Linked DNA regions of Homo sapiens. The protein of the gene in region 3 purifies or fractionates together with the protein of the main gene of each other region. This does not show direct contact. Each region holds a gene or a part of one and is shown on either strand. Other genes may lie near its edges.

The links.
Region 1: the proteins of CSNK1G3 (region 3) and ANKRD13D purify together in Homo sapiens (affinity purification with mass spectrometry; 2 studies listed by BioGRID and IntAct, with this or other methods). This does not show direct contact.
Region 2: the proteins of CSNK1G3 (region 3) and ANKRD13A purify together in Homo sapiens (affinity purification with mass spectrometry; 2 studies listed by BioGRID and IntAct, with this or other methods). This does not show direct contact.

Annotation. Positions count from the first base shown.
Region 1 is NC_000011.10:67,291,480-67,299,527, reverse strand, and holds part of ANKRD13D (ankyrin repeat domain-containing protein 13D), read right to left. Parts: coding exon 8,007-8,048; intron 7,926-8,006; coding exon 7,782-7,925; intron 7,538-7,781; coding exon 7,348-7,537; intron 471-7,347; coding exon 404-470; intron 1-403. UniProt on the Homo sapiens protein: Ubiquitin-binding protein that specifically recognizes and binds 'Lys-63'-linked ubiquitin. Does not bind 'Lys-48'-linked ubiquitin.
Region 2 is NC_000012.12:110,023,001-110,031,048, reverse strand, and holds part of ANKRD13A (ankyrin repeat domain-containing protein 13A), read right to left. Parts: intron 7,004-8,048; coding exon 6,937-7,003; intron 5,308-6,936; coding exon 5,226-5,307; intron 3,345-5,225; coding exon 3,283-3,344; intron 2,541-3,282; coding exon of another isoform or gene 2,538-2,540; coding exon 2,407-2,537; intron 1,572-2,406; coding exon 1,414-1,571; intron 405-1,413; coding exon 291-404; intron 1-290. UniProt on the Homo sapiens protein: Ubiquitin-binding protein that specifically recognizes and binds 'Lys-63'-linked ubiquitin. Does not bind 'Lys-48'-linked ubiquitin.
Region 3 is NC_000005.10:123,515,177-123,523,224, reverse strand, and holds part of CSNK1G3 (casein kinase I isoform gamma-3), read right to left. Parts: intron 1-8,048. UniProt on the Homo sapiens protein: Serine/threonine-protein kinase. Casein kinases are operationally defined by their preferential utilization of acidic proteins such as caseins as substrates. It can phosphorylate a large number of proteins. Participates in Wnt signaling.

The DNA.
Region 1 (8,048 bases), on a different chromosome or scaffold from region 3:
GGGGAGCAGGGGACACGGGGAGCTGGGGGCTCAGAGCCTGCTCCCCACACTCAGCCTCACCAGTGCAGAACCCAGGTCCTCCTGTCCCAGAGACAGATGAGATCTTGCTCCCCAAAATGGAGGAGGTGGCAGGGTCTGAACCCCAGGAAGTCACCAACGAGGAGATGCAGCCCCAGGGTCAAGAGGAACACACTCCTCTTTTGATCTCGGTACCCTGGGTAGGGGCCCATGATGTGGGTGAGCCCTGTGTACTCCGCAGGGGCTGGGCACTCAGGCCCGCTGAGTTCCCACAAATGCTCAGGGTTTCCAGAGCCCAGGGGCTACTCTGGGATGGATGTGGAGAGGAGCTGAGTTCCTGGACCTCATCTCCTACCCCCAGCCCCCCACCCCTAGCCTCTCCTGCCTTGGCCTCGTAGCCGCTAACAGTTTCCATCTTCTCAGACCGCCAGCCCCAGATACCACATTTGTTCCTGAAACAGACCAAACAGGAGCTGGTGAGACCTGCACCCTCACACGCTGGCCAAAGCCTTCCTTTCCAAAGCCCCCTCCAGCCAGCCTGCCCGGGGTGCCCAACTCTCAGGGCCCCTTCTCGCTATGAAACATGGAGGACCCCTGAAGAGGGTGCCTGGACAGGGGGGGACACTTGAGCATGGACTTGGGACTAGAAGACACTGAGGAATTAGCATGAATCTTGTGAGGTATGATAGTGTCGGGGCTGGGTTTAAAAACATCCTTGTCTTTTAGAATTGTGCAGAAGCATTTACTAGAAACATTAGGACATCTGGGATGAGCTTTGACACACTCTAGGAAACATTTTTAAAAAAGGTAAGGAAGGATAGATTCAGTAAGATTGGCAAGATGTTGATAAATGTTGAAGCTGGGTGATGAGTAAGTACATTATCTCTTCTTTCATATATGTTTGAAATTTTCCAAAATAAAAAGCTAAAAGAAAAGTATGTCAGTTGGAGACTCCAGTACCCCACTTTCAATAAGGGATAGAACAACTAGAAGATCAACAAAGAACCAGAAGATAAGAACAACACTACAGCTGGACTTCATAAGCAGGCTAGAACACTCTACCCAATAACAACCACACACACGCTTCTCACGCGCACACGGAACACTCTTCAAGGCCATACACTAGGCCATTAAGAAAACCTCAATAAGTCCGGGCGCGGTGGCTCATGCCTGTAATCCCAGCAGTTTGGGAAGCCAAGGGGGGTGGATCATGAGGTCAGGAGATCGAGACCATCCTGGCAAACATGATGAAACCCCGTCTCTACTAAAAAATACAAAAAATTAGCCGGGCACGGTGGTGGACGCCTGTAGTCCCACCTACTTGGGAGGCTGAGGCAGGAGAATGGCGTGAACATCGGAGGCAGAGCTCGCAGTGAGCAGACAGTACCACTGCACTCCAGCCTGGGCGACAGAGCGAGACTCCGTCTCAAAAAAAAAAAAAAAAAAAAAAAAAGAAAACCTCAATAAAATTGAAAGGATAGAAGTCATACAATGTATGTTTTCCAACCACAATGGAATGAAATTAGAAGTCAATAGCAGAAAAAAAAAACTTTGGAAATTCACAAATATGTAGAAAGTAAACAACACACTCCTAAATAGCCAACGTCTCAAATAATAAATCAAAAGAGAAATCAGAAAATACTCTGAGATAAACAGGAATAAAGACACAACATATCAAAACTTATGGCCGGGCACGGTGGCTCACGCCTGTAATCCCAGCACTTTGGGAGGCCGAGGCAGGCAGATCACAAGGTCAGGAGATGGAGACCATCCTGGCTAACACAGTGAAACCCCATCTCCACTAAAAATACAAAAAATTAGCCGGGCGTGGTGGCAGGCGCCTATAGTCCCAGCTACTCGGGAGGCTGAGCCAGGAGAATGGCGTGAACCCGGGAGGCGGAGCTTGCAGTAAGCCGAGATCGTGCCACTGCACTCCAGCCTGGGCGACAGAGCAAGACTCCCTCTCAGAAAAAAAAAAAAAAACCAAAAAACTTATGAGACACAGGTAAAGGCCAGGCCAGGCCCGGTGGCTCACGCCTGTAATCCCAGCACTTTGGGAGGCTGAGACAGGCAGATTGCTTGAGCACAGGAGTTCGAGACCAGCCTGTGCAACATGGTGAAACCCCATCTCTACTAAAAACAGAAAAAATTAGCTGGCGCCTGTGTTCCCAGCTACTCAGGAGGCTGAGGTGGGAGGATCACTTGAGCCTGGGAGGCGGAGGTTGCAGTGAGCTATCACACCACTGCACTCCAGCCTGGGCGATGGAGTGAGACCCCATGTCAAAAAAAGAAAAGACATGCCTAGAAGTATAAATGTAATATGTGTGAATGCCTATATTAAGAAAGAAGATCTCAAATCAATAACCTTAACCTAACCTTCCATGTTAAGACAATGGAAAAAGAGCAAACTAAACCAGAAAGAACAGAAAGAAATAATAAATATTACAGTAAAGGTTAATGAAATAGAGAATAGAAAAATAATAGAGAAAATTAATGAAACCAAAAACTGGCTCTTCGAAAACATCAACAAAATTGACAAACCTTTAGCTAGGTTGACCACGGTGGGCAAAAAAAGAGAGAGAAGACTTGGCTGGGGGCGGTGGTTCACACCTGTAATGTCAGTGCTTTGGGAGGCCAAGGCAGGAGGATTGTTTGAGGCCAGGAGTTCAAAAGCAGCCTGGATGACATAGTGAGACCACATCTCTACAAAAAAAGAAAATTAGCTGGGCTTGGTGGTGCATGCCTGCAGTCCCAGCTACTTGGGAGGTTGAAGAATCACCTAAGCCCAGGAGTTCAAGGCTGCAGTGAGCTCTTATCATGCCACTGCACTTCAGCCTGGGTGACAGAGTAAGACTCTGTCTCAAAAACAAAACAAAACAAAACAAAACAAAACAAAACAAAAACTTCAAATTACTCACCAGAATCAGAAATGAAAGAGGGGAGCAACAGAAATAAAAAGCATTATAAAAGGATACAATGATAGCTGTACACCAACAAATTTTATAATTTAGATGAAATGGACAAATTCCTAGTGAGACACAAACTACCAAAACTAATTTGAGAATAAATAGATAATCTGAATAGATGGATAACAAGTCAAGAGACTGATTGGTAAATATAACAACAAAAAACTATACACACATACACACACACACACACACACACACACACTCAGGCCCAAATGGCTTCACCACTGAATCCTACCAATCTTTTGAAGACAAATTAATACCAATTATTTGCAAACTATTAAAAAAAATAGACAAAGAGGTGACATTTTCCACTTCAGTTATGAGGCATCACCCAGATACCAAAACCAGACATATATCACAAGAAAACTACAGACCAATATCACTTATGAATATGGACACAAAATCCTCAACAAAATACGAACCAACCAAATCTAGCAACATATGAAAAGAATTATACACCACAACCAAGTGGAACTTATCACAGGAATGCAAGGTTGGTTCAATATCCATAGGTCAATTGATGTATCAATAGAATTTTTTAAAAAATCACATGATCATATCAATAAACACAGAAAAAGCATTTCACAAAATCCAACATCCTTTCATGATAAAAACACTCTAACAATGAGGAATGGAAAGGAATTACCTTAACCTGATGAAGGGTATCTACCAAAAACTCACAACTAATATCATACTTAATGGTAAGACTGAATGTTTTTCCCCTAAGATGAAGAACAAGACAAGAATACAAGGATGTCTGCTCTAACCACTTTTCTTTTCTTTTTTATTTATTTATTTACTGTTTTAGATGGAGTCTTGCTCTGTCACCCAGGCTGGAGTGCAGTGGCACAATCTGGACTCACTGCAACCTCTGCCTCCTGTGTTCAAGCAATTCTTGTGCCTCAGTCTCCCAAGCAGCTGGGACTACAGGTGCCCACCACCATGCCTGGCTAATTTTTTTTTTGTTTTTGTATTTTTAGTAGAGATGATGTTTCACCATGTTGGCCAGCTTAGTCTCAAACTCCTGACCTCAAGTGATCTGGCTGCCTCAGCCTCCCAAAGTTCTGGGATTACAGGCGTGAACCACTATGCCCAGCCTGCTCTAACCACCCCCCTTTTTTTTTGAGATGGAGTCTTGGTCTGTCGCCCAGGCTGGAGTGAAGTGGCGTGATTTTGGCTCACTGCAAGCTCTGCCTCCCGGGTTCACACCATTCTCCTGCCTCAGCCTCCTGAGTAGCTGGGATTACAGGCGCCCGCCACCAAGCCTGGCTAATTGTTTGTATTTTTAGTACAGATGGGGTTTCACCATGTTAGCCAGGATGGTCTCGATCTCCTGACCTCGTGATCCACCCACCTCGGCCTCCCAAAGTGCTGGGATTACAGGCGTGAGCCACCGCATCCAGCCTCTAACAACCTTTAATCAATATTCTACTGGAAGTTCTAGTCAGAGCAATTAAGCAAGAAAAAGAAACAAAAGGCACCTAAATTGGAAAGGAAGAAATACAACTAAATCTATTTACAGATAACATAATCTTATATGTTAAAAAAAATACTGAGGAAAGGAATCCACTAAAAATCTACTTGAATGAATGAGTTTAGCAATGTTGCAGGATACATGGTCAACATACAGAAATCAATTGTAATTTTATACATTTGCAATACACAATCAAAAAATAAAATTAAGAAAAACATTTGATTCATAATTGTATCAAAAAGAATAAAACCCTTAGTGGCCAGGCACGGTGGCTCACACCTGTAATCCCAGCAAGGTCAGGAGTTGGAGACCAGCCTGGTCCGACATGGTGAAATCCTGTCTCTCTAAAAATGCAAAAATTAGCAAGGAGTGGTGGTGGGCACCTGTAATCCCAGCTACTTGGGAGGCTGAGGCAGGAGAACTGCTTGAACCCAGGAGGTGGAGGTTGCAGTGAGCCTAGATTGTGCCACTGCACTCCAGCCTGGGCAATAGAGTGAGACTCCATCTCAAAAAAAAAAACAAAAAAACAAAACAAAACAAAAAACAGAATAAAACACTTAGGAATAAATGTAACAAAAGTGCAAAGCTTACACTCTGAAAACTATAAAATAATGTTGAAATAAATTAAAGAAGATCCAAATAAATGGAAAAACATCCCATGTTCACGGATTAGAAGACTTAACATTGTTAACATGGTACTATTCCCCAAACTGCTTTATAGATTCAGTGCAATTCCTATCAGAATCCCACCTGACTGTAGAAATTGACAAGCTGAATCTAGAATTCATATATTCTGCCTACACTGGGTTGTGAGAAAAAAGAAAATAGAATTCATATAAAATGCGAGGGTCCCAAAATACTGAAATAACCCTGAAAAAGAAAAACAAAGTAGGAAGACTCACACTTTCCAATTTCAAAACTTATTGCAAAGCAACAGTGATTAAGACAGTATAATATTGGCATAAAGACAGACATGTAGACCAATGGAACTAATGTGGGAGTCAGAAAGTAACCAATTTATCTATGGTCAACTGATTTTCGACAAGGGTGACAAGACCATTCAGTGGGAAAAACATAGTCTTTTCAACAAAGGGGGCTAGGACAACTGGATAGTCACATGCAAAAGAACCTTCCACTATACACAAAAATTAACTTAAAATGGCTCAAAGACCTAAGTGTAACAGCTAAAATTATAAAACTCCTATGACTCAATAATCAAAAGATGACCCAATTTTTTAAATGGGTGAAGGGATAGGTGTGGTGGCTCATGCCTGTAATCCCAGCACTGTGGGAGGCCCAGGTAGGCAGGTCGCTTCAGCCTAAGAGTTTAAGACCAGTCTGTAGACTCTATCTCTACAAATAACTAAACAAAACAATTAAATGATATAATAAAATAATTACAAATAATTTAAAAATTAGCTGGGCATGGCAGCATGCACCTGTAGTCCCAGCTACTTAGATCACTTGAGCCTGGGAGGTGGAGGGTGCAATGAGCCATGATCATGTCACTGCACTCCATCCTGGGTGAAAGGCCAGACCCCATCTCAAAATAAATAAGTTAATTAAGTTAAATAAAAAATGAGTAAAGGATCTGAATAGACATTTCTGCAAAGAAGATATACAATTGACCAATAAGCACATGAAAAGATGCTCAACATCATTAGTCATCAAAGAAAGGCAAATCAAAATCACAGTGAGCTATCACTTCTCACCCACTAGGCTGGCTAGATTCCAAAAACAAATGAGTGAATAATGACGTGTTGATGAGGATGTGGAGAAACTGGAACCCTCACATGCTGCTGGTGGGAATGTAAACCAGTACAGCTCGTTTGGTAAACAGTCAATTAAACAATGAGTTATCAGTAACCTAGCAATTCCACTCTTAGGTATATACCCAAGAGAAATGAAAACATATGAAAGAGAAATTAAAACATACGTCTACACAAAAACTTGCACATGAATACTTAGAGTGGCATTATTCATAAGCCAAATAATGCAAATAACCCAAATGTCTATCGATGGGTTAATGAATAAACAAGATATGGTATATTCATACAATGGCCACAAAAAGGAAAGAAATAGTTACGTGCTACAACTTGGATGAACCTTGAATATATTATACTAAGTGAAAGAAGCCAGACACAAAAGGCAACATATTATAAAATTCCATTCATATGAGAACTCAGAGCAGGGAATTCTACAGACACAGAAAGTAGATTAGTGGTTGCTTAGGACTGGGAGAGGGGATAAGAAGTTTGGCGAAGAGTTAGCTAAAGGGTGGGGGGTTTCTTCCTGAGGTGATAAAAATGTTCTAAAATTGACTGTGGTGATGTACAAATCTCTGAATAAATATACTAAAAGTCATTGAACTGTATGCTTTAAATGGGTGATCTTATATGGTATATGAGATTATATCTCAATAAAGGTTTTTTGTTTTTTTTTTTAAGTGTTTCCACTGACTGTTAAGGCAAGAGGGGGCATGTGTTGTCAGAGAAACTCTTGCTGGAAGGGTCAGGTTCCTAGGCTACCCACAAAGGATTCTGCCCCCAACACAGCCGCACCAATGACAAGCCAACATTGGTGCAAAGAGCTGCCGTGAACCACAGCCTAAATCTTTGTCTTAATGGGAAAACATATGAGGTCAGAAGTCAAGAAACTGGGGACATCTTGACCTGACCCCTCCCCACAAAGGTGGCCACAGGAGCCCAACCACCCCGGCAGTCTGAGTGAGACACGGGCTGCAGCAACCCACCTGCCCCTGAGCAGCCCCTTGTGAGTGAGCCCAGAGGCCTGAACCAGGATCTTCAAGGATCGCCCTGCCCTCATTAATGGTGGCTCTTGCTATCCGTCCCCATCCCACCCACGGTGTGCCAGGACCCGACCGACCTCTCAAAGGCCACATTACGAGTGTCCAGGTGGGTGGAGACGATAGGAGAGGTGAGGCGACTGGCCACATGCTCCTCGCTGGGCCGCATGGCGGCCAGCAGTGTTTCGGGCTCCTGCAGAGTGAGCCCCAGTGTCTCCACATGCACCACCTGCCGGTCATGGTCCACTTCCATCACCAGGGCTCCTGCCTCTGCCGGCCGGTAGGGGTGGACAGAGGGGGCGCAAATCAGTGCTGGGCGCCAGCAGTGCAGAGAGGGCGATCATGTACCCTCAGCCACCTGCTGCCAAGTGGGTCAGTCTTGGCCCCTGGATGCCCCTCCATCCCCAACCTCAGCTTCCACATCTGGAAAGTGGAGAGAAAAGGCAGCACCGTCCTCCCAAGCCGCAGGAAACCCAAGGGCCGAGGAGCTGCAATGAGTTTGTCCAGAGCTCACCCTGGCCCTTGAAGATGAAGCTCCTCCGGCCCCGCTGCCAGGTCATGTGCTCGAAGCCCAGGAGACTGGTGTCTACTCGCAGGCTCTCACCCCGCTTCCACACGCGGTACACATCGCTTGGGCACATCTTAGACACAAGGGGCACTGCAGGGTGCACAGGGGTCACTGGGGGTCTTTCCAAAGGCCCCACCCCAAATCCCTGGGAGCCCAGAGGTCCCCACTCACCCCAGCTGGTGAACTCCCACTTCATCTCAACGTAGAAATCGG
Region 2 (8,048 bases), on a different chromosome or scaffold from region 3:
CAGCAACCTCCATCCCCCCGCCTCTCCCCCAGTTCAAGCGATTCTCCTGCCTCAGCCTCTCGAGTAGCTGGGATTACAGGCATGCGCCACCACACCCGGCTAATTTTTGTATTATTAGTAGAGACAGGGTTTCTCCATGTTGGTCAGGCTGGTCTCAAACTCCCGACCTCAGGTGATCCACCCACCTCGGCCTCCCAAAGTGCTGGGATTACAGGCATAAGCCACCACGTCCGGCCATAAATTTTTTTTTAAATAACAAAACTAAACTTTGTATTTATTTATTTTTTTACCTGAATCAGCCTGGGTCCCTTCCACATTTTGAGATACAGATTCTTCGGCAGTGCTACAGCCATTAACATTTCCAAATGTAATCCGTGCATTTAAGACATGAAACAAGGGAATTTCTAACAAACAAAATAAAAACTTTTATAAGTAAACTTTACTGAGAATAACAATAATAGTTATCATTTACTAAGTGCTTACTATGCCAAGTACTTTGATAAGTATAATTTTATTTAAGCCTCATAACAACCCTTCCCAATACACAGACGGGAAAACTGAGATTGAGAGTTGTGTATTTTCGGTCAGGCGCGGTGGCTTACACCTGTAATCCCAGCACTTTGGGAGGCCAAGGCGAGCTGATCACCTGAGGTCAGGAGTTCGAGACCAGCCTAACCAACATGATAAAACCCCATCTCTACTAAAAATACAAAAATTAGCTGGGCGTGGTGATGCATGCCTATAATCCCAGCTACTTAGGAGGCTGAGGCAGGAAAATCGCTTGAACCCAGGAGGCAGAGGTTGCAGTGAGCCAAGATCATGCCACTTCATTCCAGCCTGGGCAACAGAGCGAGACTCCATCTCAAAAAAAAAAAAGAGAAAATGAGTTATGTATTTTCTCCTAGATCACAGTGAGTAAGTGATCAAGCCAGGGTTCAAGTATCATGAACATACAACTATCCAAAATTAATACTCTTCATGAGTAGTATGTATGATATATACATATATAGCATTATGCATACTAGCTTGGGACGTAGATCATATTTACATATCAAAGGATCTTGGTGTCAACTGTCTTCCTCAAATAATTATCTAATTTGAAGTCTCACTGAATTAAGGTTTGACATTAAAACAATGACTGTGTCATGTTTTTATGCCTTTTTATATCTGTCAGCACCATTTGCAAATAGAAATGATGGTTGGAGATCTCTTGACTTTGATACACAAAATGAACCACTAATCATAACACTTCTTTAAATCAAACCACAGGAGAACTCTGACCTCCTCTGTTATGTCTATAAGCTACTTTGACCTAAAGCACTCCAATTCCCTGAAGCATCCTGCCACCCACATGCTGCCACCCACAAACATGGGCAGAACCTCCAAGTGTTGCTGAAGTTTATTTAGCAGTACCTATTTTGACAGGAAATCCAGGTGGGAATTCCAATTTGATGAAATCTCTCAGTCTTGCAAAATGAGCACTCGTTCGAGCCATTAGGTCAATGATGGGAATGACCTGCTCCACCAGAGAGAGGGGAAACTCTTCACACATCCACAACATTGCTTTAAACCTGCAGAATTCAACCAAGAAAAGACTGAGGTCATCTCCACCAGATGGGAAAAGGAGATTATTGCTATGCAGTAGGCTAGACAACAGCAGCTTTACTCCACACTCTGCCCAGTCATCTCTTAATTCAGACCTATTAAAGGTCAAATGTCTAGGGCCACAAGGAATTCACATCACCCTAAAATCTGGCAATAAAGGCAAGCGACCTGCATGACAACCTGCCACGATCAAAGCCTTAATTGACAGCAAGCATGAAGAAATGATAGCGGGTGGAACAGTTTCATTTGAATTTGATCAGCTGAAGCTGGTTAGCAATAAAAAAAAAAAGGAATTCTTACATCCAATCTAGATTCTATTTGGAAAGGAGCTAATAACATGGACAATCTACTGTTAGCTTTCATGGCAAAGTAATTTTAAAATTATTTTTTATAAAAAGGGGCAGAGGAGGCTGGGCGCAGTGGCTCATGCCTGTAATCCCAGCAGTTTGGGAGGCCCAGGCGGGCGGATCACAAGGTCAGGAGTTCGAGACCAGCCTGACCAATATGGTGAAACCCTATCTCTACTAAAAATACAAAAATTAGCTGGGCGTGGTGGCACGCGCCTGTAGTCCCAGCTACTCAGGAGGCTGAGGCAGGAGAACCGCTTGAACCTGGGAGGCAGAGGTTGCAGTGAGCCGAGTTCGTGCCACTGCACTCCAGCCTAGGCGACAGAGCGAGACTCCGTCTGAAAAAAAAATAAGGGTGGTGGGGAGGGCAGTGGAATGATCCAACATAACACCATAAAACAGCACAATTTCTGAAACATACATAGGTTGAAAATGGCAGCTGAACCTCTCTTACTTCTGTGTTCTAATCGTCAGCTCTTTCGGCCTTCCAATGTCCCTGTCTTTCAGATCAAACTCTTCATTGAAGTACTCATCAGGCGTGATGGCTGTGGGGTTGTTTGCAGTAGCACATTCCGTGGTGAGGTCCTGCTGAGCCAGAACTCAGGAGAGTCAGAAATGCCAAATGATGTTCACAAGTGAAGGCCTGTGGCACTCAGTGTCTGAGGTGGACGTGTTAACCAGCTAAAGACCGGGAAGTTCTATTCACTAACTTTTTTGCATGGAACAAGAAAATCTATGAGGATATCACCAAACTACACAGGAAGTGTAATGGATTTCTTCATTTTAAAATATTTCTCTACTCTCCTTTACATTTTTATCTCCTGATTATAACAAAGAAAAAAAGAAAGAAATATCTGAAAGTGCATGAGACTTGGAAGACTTGGAGTTGAAGTTCTAGCTGTTTCCCTGTCTAGCTTTGATAGTGGAAAGGTAATTTCATTTTTCTGACCCGCAGGGACATCCACTGTACCAAGTTCATATAGTTACTGTGAGCATCAAGTAAGAAAATATTTGTTAAGGTGCTCTGTTGCAATATAAAGTCCTGAATCCTTTTTAAGTTCCATTTCTATAAAGAGGCCCCTCGTTTATAATGGATAAGAGGGAAAGCACCTGATTTCTATAATCACTACCCCTCCTCTAAAATCCTTATTTATTTTCAAAGAGTCACTCATCTAATTCTCTTCCAAAAGAGTATCTCAAATTCCAGCTTGGGGGTATCTTTGGCCTTTACATAGAGTGGGCTGTTCAGGATCCAGTAAATGCCATCCCAGACACAGACAAGTTGTTTCCTTTCATCTAACTGCAATGAAAGCTCATTGCTTCAACTTACCCCTTGTGCACCAAATTGGTGTTCCACAGTTCCCAGCAAAGATTCCAGCGGGTTCCTGTCTGCTACAGAGGGGTAGGGAGTTTAAAGTCTAATATTATATCTCACTTGTGGCTATAAAAAAAAGATCTTCATTAAAGTTTCTGGTCCAAGCTACCTCATTAGGAAATGCAATTACAGACTGGCTGATCAAATCATTCACAATAACCATAAACTAATTTATCCTTTATAGGGTGCTTTTCATGAGGATCTCTAAACTAGATAAACAGTTGTAAGAATTAAAGCAGAATAATGGGAAGAGTCTGGATTTTGGAGTGAGCCAGACCTGGATTCCAACCCCACCTTGGCCACTCGCTACCCATGTGTTCTGGGCCTCAGTTCCCTCATCTGTCAAAGTGGAGTAATGGCAATGGTGGTGGTGGTGCTGGTGAACAATTACTGCATGCTTACCACATACTGCAGGCGCCATTCTAAAGGCTTCCACGTCGTAACTCATCTAATCCTCTCAATAACTCTAAGGAAGGTTGGGTATCACCTGCATTTCACTGCTGAGGAACTAAGGCACAGAGCAGAAGTAATTTCACAAGGCCATAGAACTGGTGGGGCTGGGATGGGGCTGGGATGTGGCAACCACATGCAATGTTTTTGCTTGGACCCCAAGTTCTGTCTAAATCTTTCATCACAATAGTTTGGACTAAATCACTCATTCCAATGATAAATATTCTCAAATGTCCTTATCTCCTTTTTTGGCTGAATTCAACAATTGTTCTTGATAACACATAAACAAGCCCTCACGAATAGCTTTAATTACAGCTGAGGCCAACTATGGGGAAACACCTCCAAGAATGAGTCAGACTAAGGAAATTTTCTTTCCTTTTTCTTTTTTTTGAGACAGAGTCTAGCTCTGTCACCCAGGCTGGAGTGCAGTGGGACAATCTTGGCTCACAGCAACCTCCACCTCTGGGGTTCAAGCGATTCTCCTGCCTCAGCCTCCCCAGTAGCTGAGACTACAGGAGTGCGCCACCACGCCTGGTTAATTTTTGTATTTTTAGTAAAGATAGGGTTTCACCATATTGGCCAGGCTGGTCTCAAACTCCTGGCCTCAAGTGATCTGCCCACCTTGGCCTCCCAAAGTGTTGGGATTACAGGTGTGAGCCACCGTGCTCAGCCAGGAAATTTTTTTTTTTTTTTTGAGATGGAGTTTCACTCTTGTTGTCCAGGCTGGAGTGCAATGGCACGATCTCAGCTCACCAAAACCTCCGCCTGCCAGGTTCAAGTGATTCTCCTGCCTCAGCCTCCTGAGTAGCTGGGATTACAGCCATGGGCCACCACACCCAGCTAATTTTGTATTTTTTTTTAGCACAGATGGGGTTTCTCCATGTTGGTCAGGCTGGTCTTGAATTCCCGACCTCAGGTGACTCGCCCACATTGGCCTCCCAAAGTGTTGGGATTACAAGCATGAGCCACCGTGCCTGGCCAGAAATTTTTATAAAAAAGAAGTTAGGGGCCAGGCACGGTGGCTCACGCCTGTAATCTCAGCACTTTCGGAGGCCGAGGTGGGTGAGGATCACCTGATGTCAGGAGTTCGAGACCAGCCTGGCCAACATGGTGAAACCCCGTCTCTACTGAAAATACAAAAAATTAGCCGGGCGTGGTGGTGGGTGCTTGTAATCCCAGCTACTCAGGAGGCTGAGGCAGGAGAATCACTTGAACCCAGGAGGCAGAGGTTGCAGTGAGCCAAGGTCGTGCCACTGCACTCCAGCCTGGGTGACAGGGCGAGACTTTGCCTCAAAAAAAAAAAAAAAGAGAGAGAGAGAGAAGAAGTTAGGGTTAGGCTTAACACAACCCAATCACATTAACCCTAAACTTAACAGAGCCAACAAAGAGTTCCCTCTAGGCTTAAAAAATAACAACAAAACAGGAGGTGGGAGGGTGGTGGTGATTACCTTTATATCTCTTTTTTTCCTCCTCGGTCAGATGTTCTGTGCGTATTTTGGTGATCACATTCACATTGTTTACTGTGTAAACCTGAGAGGTGTATGCGAAAGAAAACAGTGACACAGGGAATCAAAACTCCAAAAGTAAGCACAGCAAAAGCAAGAATGCTGAAGCAAAAAACAGAAAACAATCCAGCAAAATAAAAATGAGAAATGGTTAACTATCATTAGGATCCTTCAGAGAAAGTATATAAACTATCAACTGAAAAATGCATCAGCAGTTACCTCCCATGTTTGACAGTTTTAATACTAAGGAGTTAGCAGTGACAGGCTGCATCTTCCTGCTTGCCCTGCTGTGGCTAAATAGTCTCAAACAAATGCCCTGCAATCTAGGTTTCCACCTGGGTTTCTATTAAACTAAGGTACCCAAACCAGGATCCTGTACTTCTGTTGGTAATTTTTTTTTTTTTTTTTTTTGAGACAGAGTCTCCCTCTGTTGCCCAGGCTGGAGTGCAGTGGCGTGATCTCTGCTCACTGCAGCCTCCGCCTCCTGGGTTCAAGCGATTCTCGTGCCTCAGCCTCCAGAGTAGCTGGGATTACAGGCATGTGCTACTATGACTGGTTAATTTTCGTATTTTTAGTAGAGACGGGGTTTCACCATGTTGGCCAGGCTGGTCTCAAAATCCTGGCCTCAAGTGATCTGCCTACTTGGGCCTCCCAAAGTGCTGGGATTACAGGCGTGAGCCACTGCACCCAGCCTCCGCTGGTAGTCTTGTAATACTAGTATGACTCAGACAGCCATCTGCTGGGCAGAAGAGAAAGGTATGAACACAAGGTTCTCTATAGACTTATGAGCTGTAGAGAAAACCAGCAAGTCACTATTTAAAAGGCATTCTGTGCACTGACAAAAATTATTGTAACTGCCAGAGCAAATGCTCTGTTATCAAGGATAACTGGGGAATATGGTGGTCTAGAAAATCAAACATAACAGTTAACAAAGAATTCTCTCTATATGCCACGTGAGGAGCCCCAACATTCAAAGCTGCAGAAAACACACTCAGCACTATGACAAGTGCTTCTAAATGTATCTTGCTGAGCATGACGTAAGCCTTTCTTTGCTCACTCAGAGGCCACCAGAGGACCCTGCAGCACTGGGCTCCAACACCAAAAGCCATCAATCCCTGTTGTACTGAGGGACTGAAAGGCCAGGAAACAGCTTTCCAGCTGACAAAATGCCAGATGACTGGATCAACAATCGTCTCCACTATTACAACTATGTTTTAAATGCACTGATGTCATGCAAATGGGCTGTGCGCCTGCTGATTACAATTAAGCTGATTTAACAAAAAAGAGACTCAAAAGCTACTACACAACATTTGAACACATGTGAAGTCTAATCCTTCCTCTTCCTTTTTTTTTTTTAAATAATTAAGGGAATGACTAGCTTGTCATTCCTACCAGAACAACTGGTACCTGTACTCATTTCTCTACCATATTGTTTCTCTTTAGCATAGCTACAGACCTCCTCAGGGCATGCTATCCCATTTTCTGAAAGTCAAATAAGACAAAATCAAACATCCAAGTGAGAGACACATTAGACAGTTCTCATTCCCCAGAGCATCTCCATGGCACAGATGCATGAAAAAAATGGGAACAGATTCCTCATTTGCATAGAAGCTAAATAGCTATATTAAATCTTATTTTAAGAGTTTCCTTTTACCTTTGCTTCGTAACCATTAACAACTTCTGCTTTATCTGTCCTCCAGCCCCAGAATCCGGATTTAGTTCTGATAAAAAGTGAACACCACAAATTTCTACATGTACAATATGCCATTCAGATTTATATCTGTAGCCTTTATAGTTTTTTTCCCCCCCAGCTTAAGTTAGTGAAGGACACTTGGAAATCATGGTCCTATTGTCCACAGGAGGCGGTTAGCAATGACAGATGGCTTATGCACCCTCCACCCTCCTCCCACAGTTATTAATCAATTTGCCTCACCCCAGGCATAGAAAGCCTCCAATCTTGGCTTCTTTACAAAACTGCCAGCATTGAGGACAAAGGTGGTGACATTTATTGGACAGCAGTCCCAAAGAAGTGACTGAAGATGACCAGCATCCAAGGGCTTGCCACAAGGTGGTAACCAGGTCAGAGCATTTATCTGGGTCATCTTAACTGGGGACATGCATGTCAATGGTGGGATCTCCACAAGTAGCCACATCTCACTCGAGGAATTCTTAGAACAATGAGGCACAGACCATCCTGCTCCTTACAAAAGAGCAGGTGGGCCAGGAACTCATCACTGTGGTGAGCTGCTTGGAGATGCCATTAGGTCTGCAAAATAGCTGAGTCACATGTTTGGGCAGGTTTGGTGCAGCAGGGCAAAGGATGTGAAAAACAGATTTTTTTAGCCCAGCTGTTAATTCCATCTCTGTGGAACTCCTTTTAAAGTAGCCCAGCATTCCAGTGGCAGATGCAGCATTGGTAATATGCCCAAAATCTCAGTTATTCAACTCAACATACTCCTGAAAAAAAATGTATTTAGGAACCAAAAGCAGCCAGGAGGCTCTGATTCTTTTTCAAAGCAGCTTGCCCTGGGAAACGCTCCCTCTCACAGGGGATCCCTGACCAGCCCTACCCTTTGTCTAGGACATCACATCCCAGCTCCTCTTGGCCCTGGCTACGGCAACAGCCTGACTTCTGCTCTGACCACTGAGTGGTTGGGATGTCATGCAGGAAGCTCAGGGAACAGCAGCAGGTTAGCCACGTTACAAAGAACATATGCGGTTATTAGCATTTTGTTTCCAAATAGTTTGCTTTTCTTCTAATGGGAT
Region 3 (8,048 bases):
TAAGGTAAAATTTTTTCACTGAGCGGGAATAAACAGAGACCGTTCCTCATCAACAGTGGTATAAAAAAGAAGAAAGCAGAAGTGCAGTTATACTAAATAATCTTTGAAGTCCCTTCCATCCTGATGTTCCATAAAAAATACAGCTCAATGATATTGTAAATATGATAAATATAACCTAAAATGAATAACTTTTTATTAGTAACACTTCTTCCCCTCTTATAATTTATAATAACTTTAGAGATATCACTTAGGTCTCCTAAGATTTCCAGAAACAACTGAATTGATGCCTTAATTTATATTTGATAAATTTCCCCATAACAAACTTTCCAAGCTTCAGAAATCCTCTAACTTTGGCGTTATACTTAATCAAAGACTGCTAATGAGCAATGAATATAGGGGCCTCACTAAGGATGCTAAGTACAATTGACCCTCATTATCTATGGGCTCCTCATCCTTGGATTCAACCAACTGCAGATTGAGATATTCAGGGAAAAAAAAGCATCTGTACTAAACATGCACAGACTTTTTTTTTTATCATTATTCCCTAAACAATACTTCATAACAACTATTTACACAGCACTTACATTGTATTAGGTATTACAAGTAATCCAGGAATAACCTAAAGAATAGGGGAAGGTGTCAAAGGTTATAGGCAAATACTGTGCCATTTTATGTCAGGTACCTGGCCACACCCTCAGATTTTTTTTTTCTTTTTTTTTTTTGAGACAGAATCTCGCTCTATTGCCTAGGCTGGAGTGCAATGGTGTCATCTCGGCTCACTGCAACCTTTACCTCCCAGGTTCAAGCGATTCTCCTGCCTCAGTCTCCCAAGTAGCTGGGACGACAGGCGTGTGCCACCACGCCCCGCTAATTTTTTTGTATTTTTAGTAGAGACAGGATTTCACCGTGTTAGCCAGACGGTCTCAATCTCCTGACCTCGTGATCCGCCTGCCTCTGCCTCCCTAAGTGCTGGGGTGAGCCACAGCACCCAGCCCATCCTTGGATTTTGATAGCCATGAGGGGTCCTGGAACGAATCTGAGGAACTGTATGAAGCTATGAGCAGAAGCCACTACTTTAACTTGATTCTCTTGCTAATATTTTCTTTGCATTTTCTTCTGTGTCATCTTCATACCTCCACCTCAAATTTTAAAAAGACAGTTGGAAAATAAAAGAAAGCCATTTTTTTAAAGGGCTGAGAGTGTAAAAAGAAGGAGAAATTAGTTATTTTCAACCCTGCAGGACACTGGAATCGTCTGTAGAAATCCTAAAATATATCAATGCCCTAGCCCTTTCCAGGCCCTACTGATTATTTATGGAATATAAATTAGCATGGGTAGAATCCCAACATCTGTCTTTTTTTTTTAAGCTCCCAAGAAAACTGTAATATGAACTCGGGCCAAGAACCACTAGTAAAAACTTTCTCCACAAATCCTTCCCTCCTCTCATCTATTTAGTTAAATGTTAGCATTCCCAGCCCATAGCAAGGACTGCATGAACTATCTTTAAAATTGTCCATTTTTCTTCTTTCATTTACTCTGTCACAGAAGAAAAATTACTAATTTTCAACTGGAAATTTTTAAACAAGTGTGTATAGTAAAATTAATTTTAGCTTATTGGATATTCTCATTCCCAAATGCTCAGGATTTCTTTTTCAGTCTTAAAAAAACCACCTTCATTAGTAGGTATTAAGGTAAACAGCAAAGCATACAATAATAAGCAAACTCACAATATGCATTCTAGTTATCGACTTTCAATAGATATCAGAAAATACTCAAAACAATTATCTTAAGGAGCTGATTATATTTTGATACTTTATTAACTACAAACATTTGCAGAATCTCAATTATATAAAGACACATCAGCAACAATATATCCTGATACTCGTATGACAGAAAAAGTACTCAGTAAAGATCCTTTTTTTAAAATAAAAACTGGCATCACAAGATTCCACATCTTTAAGATTTAAAGATTTACATTTTTGGAGTAGGGAGAGTCAGACTGTTGTCAGATTCCCTAAAATAAATGTAGAAAAGAAAATAATGTTTTGTAAAAAATATGCATCTATAAACACTTTTTTTCAAGGTCATCTAAAACTGACACCTACTAGTTTCATCTCCAAAACAATACTAGACTATTTTTGTACTCCAAATTAGAATTTTATTAAAAGGTCCTGTAGTCATAAATTTGCACACCCTAAGACTTATAGAATACCATAAATTTTCTCTCTTCTGTCCTGATTACCTAATATATTTGCCTGCCACTTGAAAGTATTCATTGCTAGAATATAAAATAAGTATTTCACAGAAATAGAAAATAAACATGACACACAGTGGGTGTAAAGAAAAAAAACATTTTCACTTCCCTTTTTACTAAAGGAAATTCTGAATATAATTTTAACTCTAATAAATCACAGTCTAATACACTGCCTAGTATACCACCTGAAGTCAAACCAAACAAACTAAAAAAATAAATAACACAATAATTTCAAAATATTCAGAAGTCCACTAATTTTATAATGTATATTTGTACCAAAAGATATTATATGGCCAATTTCAATTTAAAATTTTAAGATAAGTAATTTTAATACATCCAATTTTAAACATAAAGAAATCTGCAAAGTATCAATACATTTGAGGCACACTTTATTCATGGTAATATACAAGGAAAGCAGTTATATATTAAAATCTAAACTGGTAGAAAACACATCCCACCCCAAGATTCTACCCCCCTCAAAAAAAAAAAAAAAATTACTGTTTTTTCTGATGGTAGAAATAATGCACAGTGACAGCTGAAAACCCAAACAATATAGAGAAGTAAATGAAGTATAAAAATAAAAATCATCCTAAATCTCACCATTTATAAACAACTGACATTAACATAAATATTCTTCCAGAAGATGGATGGATTTACTCCATATACTTACAACCCATACATATATGTATCTATGTATACATGTATAGTATATATGCACATATATATTCCTTTCATTTACATATATTGATGGTAAAGAAATGCTTAAGATCATTTTCTTGAAAATAAAATAATGAATTGTCCCAAACAGTCTGCTTTTGCATTTTCATTTAAGCAGGCTAGGTTTAAGATTATTCCATGTGTGTGTGTCTGCCTGTCTTTCTGTGTGATGTTGTCATTGTTGTTGACTGCTTGAGGCAAGCTGAAAAATTTTGTCTGTTTACTTATTTTACTGGAAAAAAAAGAAAACTTCTGGTTAAATTTTTCCAAAGCCTAAGAACACAGGTATCTGTACTAAAGGTGATTAGCTGACTGATTTACATTGGTAGCCCACAGTCCTGAGCAAAACTGTAAAGTAGACAAGATTATTATGGCCTCCTAATTCTTACTCAGAAAGAGCACTCCACTAGTAATTAGGATATAAGAGTTCTACTAATCAGGTGTGTGGCTTGAGCATTTCAATCTTCCTATGATTCATTTTAAGTCTAAAATCCTATGGTCCTTCCCTTCCTCCCCAACCCCTTACCAACTCTGCTGCTCTCAAAATATGTAAAAACCATCCTTTCCTCCAATCTCACTGGAATTCCAGGATTCAAAATAAATCCTTCTGACCAAGAAACTCCCATTTCCTCAATGCACTTATTCTCCCCTAGATATGATAAGCAAAGTAATCAATGAAATCAAAGGTATGGGCAACTTCATGGTGAGGAAGGAAAGCAACAATGCAGAAAAAAAAATTTAAACAAGTTTATAGGAAAAAATTTTAATGTAAAATTAAATGGCTTCATGAGTTTCATAGAAAAAAATTATAATCTTTCAACTTCACCACCTATTTTATTGATTCAAAGTTAGCCAATGAAAAAATAAAGTAGTGTTTTTAGCTCCTAAAATATTCAGACCCAGCCGGGCACAGTGGCTCATGCCTGTAATCCAGCACTTTGGGAGACCGAGGCAGGCAGATCACCTGAGGTCAGGAGTTCAAGACCAGCCTGGCCAACATGGCAAAACCCCGTCTCTACTAAACATACAACAATTAGCCAGGAAAGGTGGCGACTGCCTGTAATCCCAGCTACTCAGGATGCTGAGGCAGGAGAATCACTTGAACCCAAGAGGCAGGGGTTGCAATGAACCGAGATCATGCCATGGCACTCCAGCCTGGGAAACAAGAGTAAAACTCCGTCTCAAAAAGTAACTTGCCAGCCACGGTGACTCAAGCCTATAATCCCAGCACTTTGGGAGGCCAAGGCAGGCAGATCACTTGAGGCCAGGAGTTCGAGACCAGCCTGGCCAGCATGGAGAAAGCCCATGTATACTAAAAATACAAAAATTAGCTGGGTGCAGTGGCATGCACCTGTAATCCCAGCTACTTGGGACGCTGAAGCACGAGAATCGCTTCAAAACAGGTAGACACAGCGATCACTATTTATCATCTCTCTAACATCCATATCCCCCAAATTCTTCCTTCCCACAATTTTTTTAAAATATCCTCCCTCTTCCATCTAACTCAGAAAAATGTGATCCCAACACCAATTGCAGAAGGTATCTCCTGATTAGTAGAAACCAACCATGATAACCTTACTTCCCTTATGATAACTAGTTAGGACGTTCATGTGACCTAATTCTGGTCAATAAGATACGAAGAGAAAAATATGTTGGTAGGCTTATGCAAAAGATGTATTTGCTTTTCCAGAGACACAGACAGAAAGAGAGAGAGAGATCCATTCCATCCTCTGGCCAGTGCATGTCTAGATGTGATCTTGCTGCTGGCCTTAGGATGACTCCAACACACAGAAGACAAACAGCCAAGAAAATCACAGAGGGGCAGACCAGAGCTCTCAAGTACTAGCTTGGAGCCACCCACCCTACCTTCATACTTCAATGTGCCATTTCAGCATCTACTGTAATTCAGCAAGCAATGTGGTTACACCAAAATAAATAGCATACCACATATACCACTCCTTCTCCAACCTGGACTTCCTGCTCCTTCAACTGAAAGTTCTCCTTTCCATTTGGACTGAGCTAGGTGAGATAGGAGGCTCAAGTGCTCCTGGTATATATCAAGGGTGTCACATTTCCTCCTTCAAAGAACAATCTCCTCTACCCCAGCATTCCTAATTGGATGGAGATGTTGGAACTATAAGAAGGCTTACCCCTTCAACCCTGACAGTACATAAAAGTTGAAAGGTAGCTTATGAAATCAGATTAGGGACCATACTGGGAAATATGTGAGAACCATAGATTGATCACCTGACTAGATAAACAATTCACTCTAAGGAATGAACCTCTGGGAATAACAGGATCTTCCTTTTTTTTTTTTTTTTTCTTAAAGAGGATGTTATTAAATAAATCTCTAAGCAGTAGTGTAAACTAGGAAAGATGATGTTTTAGAAGCAGACTTCTTTAATATATTACAATTAATAAATGGTTCTGAAGTTAGCCTAAAAAGGAAATCATTTCTCAACATCTACAAACTCTATACATTTTATTACAACTAAAACAAAAATGTCCATTCACAAGACAATCTTATAATACAGAGCTATGGCCTTTTCTTCCAGTGTGGGTCTATCGAAGAAAGTTCTATTTCCTTTTTCTTGCAAAAACTACCCCCATAAAACAACACCTGTGATTTCCAGTTTCTGTTTCTTAAACACAGAAAGACATTTTACAAACGTGAAAAATAATATTATTGCAGATTTTTTTAGATCGTTAGGTGTTTTTTGTTTTTTTTTCCCTAATCATTTAAAATTATTTAACCCTCATCTATTTCAACCATAATTGATTTTGGCTACTCACTTGATTTCAAAGTAGCCAATTGGTTCTCATACAAACGCCTTTTTATCTTCAGAGTTCACTGAATAATAATTCATTAAACTATGTGATTACAACATCAAGTGCCATAACAGTGTGTTGGGTACAAACACAAATGTTTCTTGGTAAGTCTACAGTAACTGGGGGGAATAAAAGTTCAAGATAAAACTAAAGAATAGTCTACTGTCATTCAATGTAGCATGAGCATCAGTCAGCAAATTCTACAGAGAGAATGAAGACTATCATTTAATCTCACGAGTGGGTTAAGCAGAGGTCAGGTATGAGAGATTTTCCTGTAATAGGGTGTTCCCGAGAGTCTTTGCTTGTCTACCCACCAATCCACCCTCTAAAATTCTTATCGGCAACTTCTGAAATGAAGGACAGAAGATTTACACAGTGCCTACTATGTGGCAGGCATCACATAGTCCTTGGCACTTCATATGAATTTCCTCCATTTTGATGAAGAATATAATGGCAGAATAACAGGGTAACTCTCTTCCCTTTTTTTCCAAATGTAGCTATCAACTGAAGAAAGTACTTCCAGGTAACACAAAGTGATCTAAATAAATGTAATAAATTTGAATACAACTTCAACCTCACATTACTAACCTAGAGAAAAAAAACATTAAACTTTGTATTTAAGAAAAAGAGTATCATGAGACCATCTCTCATTCCATTGAAAAGTTATGAAAAATGCGGACATGATTTAGCCATGTGGACATAACTTACTCATAAATTTTCAATAAATTACAACTATGTAATATATCATTGGTAAACAAAGCGACCAAAAAAGTGTGTCTTATCTCCCCAATACATAAACACTTCAATTCATTGTTAAGAGTTATTTCTTATAACTAAGATGATAAGCACGAAGTGGCAGGAGAGAGTATAACCAATCACTATGGTCTAACAACAAATAAACACATACTTTCCTTAGGTTTCATAATAGAAGGGAAGCCCAAACATTTATAGTTGCTAAATCTCAGCTTTCAGAGAGAGCTTAAAAAAAAGAAAAAATGTCTAACAGCAGCCTCCACCATGTCGCTAGAAGTTATATATTTCTACATTTATCTCCCATTCCATATTTCCTGAGCAGTTCAGATGCCCTTGAAAATCATTTCACATTATTAAAGCACATTTGATTTCTACACATTAAGAATCCAAGCATAGTTCTGTCCTGCAGATCAGCAAAAGGTGATGCTCTGAGGTGCCTTAAATTACCAGAACCATACTGTCTGCACCTACAGGATCCCACAATTAAAGACAGATACCTCAAAACTACCGCTTCTGAAGAAATTACATCATAAAGAACCAACACTCAGACACATACTATCAATTAATACCACGAATTGCCAACCGCTTGAGAAAAGACCAAAAAAAGGATGAAGATGGAAGATAAGAAAAAACAGATCATTGGTGGCTTAAGACTTTGAAGTCAGAAAAAAAAACTGACTCAAATATGCACTCTGCTACTTCCAAGATATATCTTCAACACATTATTTAAACTCTAGAAGACTGTTTCCTGCTCTCAAAAATGAGGTTACACCACCTAACTCAGAGTTGTCGTAATAGTATCATTTATGGCCTCTATACAAAGTAGGCACTTAATAAATTATAGGAGGTATTGTTGTTACTGGGAGGTTGAAGGGAACACAAATTCAGTTATAAGTCCTTTTTGAATACTAAGAGGGGAATAATTAGGGAAGCTAAGAGGGGAATAATTAGGAGAAGAAAAAAAAACTTCAAACAATTTTCCCTGTAACATGATTTTACTTGCATTTATAAACTGATTTTTTTTTCTAAGCACTCCTTTGATAATGATTAAGTGTGGGGTTACATTATTTTAGGGTCGTCTAATATTTAAGATGACTTAAAAACCTCACACACGTTAATCCCGAACTGTGAAAATTTCTCATCTTATCATCCCTCTGTTACTATCAATTTTCCTCACGTACAGATTCTTTTATAATTACTTCATTAAAACCACTTTCTGTGAAAATATACATTCTTTACATTTCATCTCATCCACAGCAAATCTCACTATTAACAATAATATAACTATTCAATGACCTATATTTTGTTATTCAATACTTCAGCATTCCTTCTATTTAATTTGACACATCCTTTTGGGAAGCCCTTTGGAACAAAACAACCGCTTGTTCCATTCTGAAAAACATCTGAAACAATAAACTATACCAGAATAAGTCTACTCCCAGCATGGAGAGGATTACAGGATGGATCAGAGGAGACACAGAGAAGTAACTGGAGA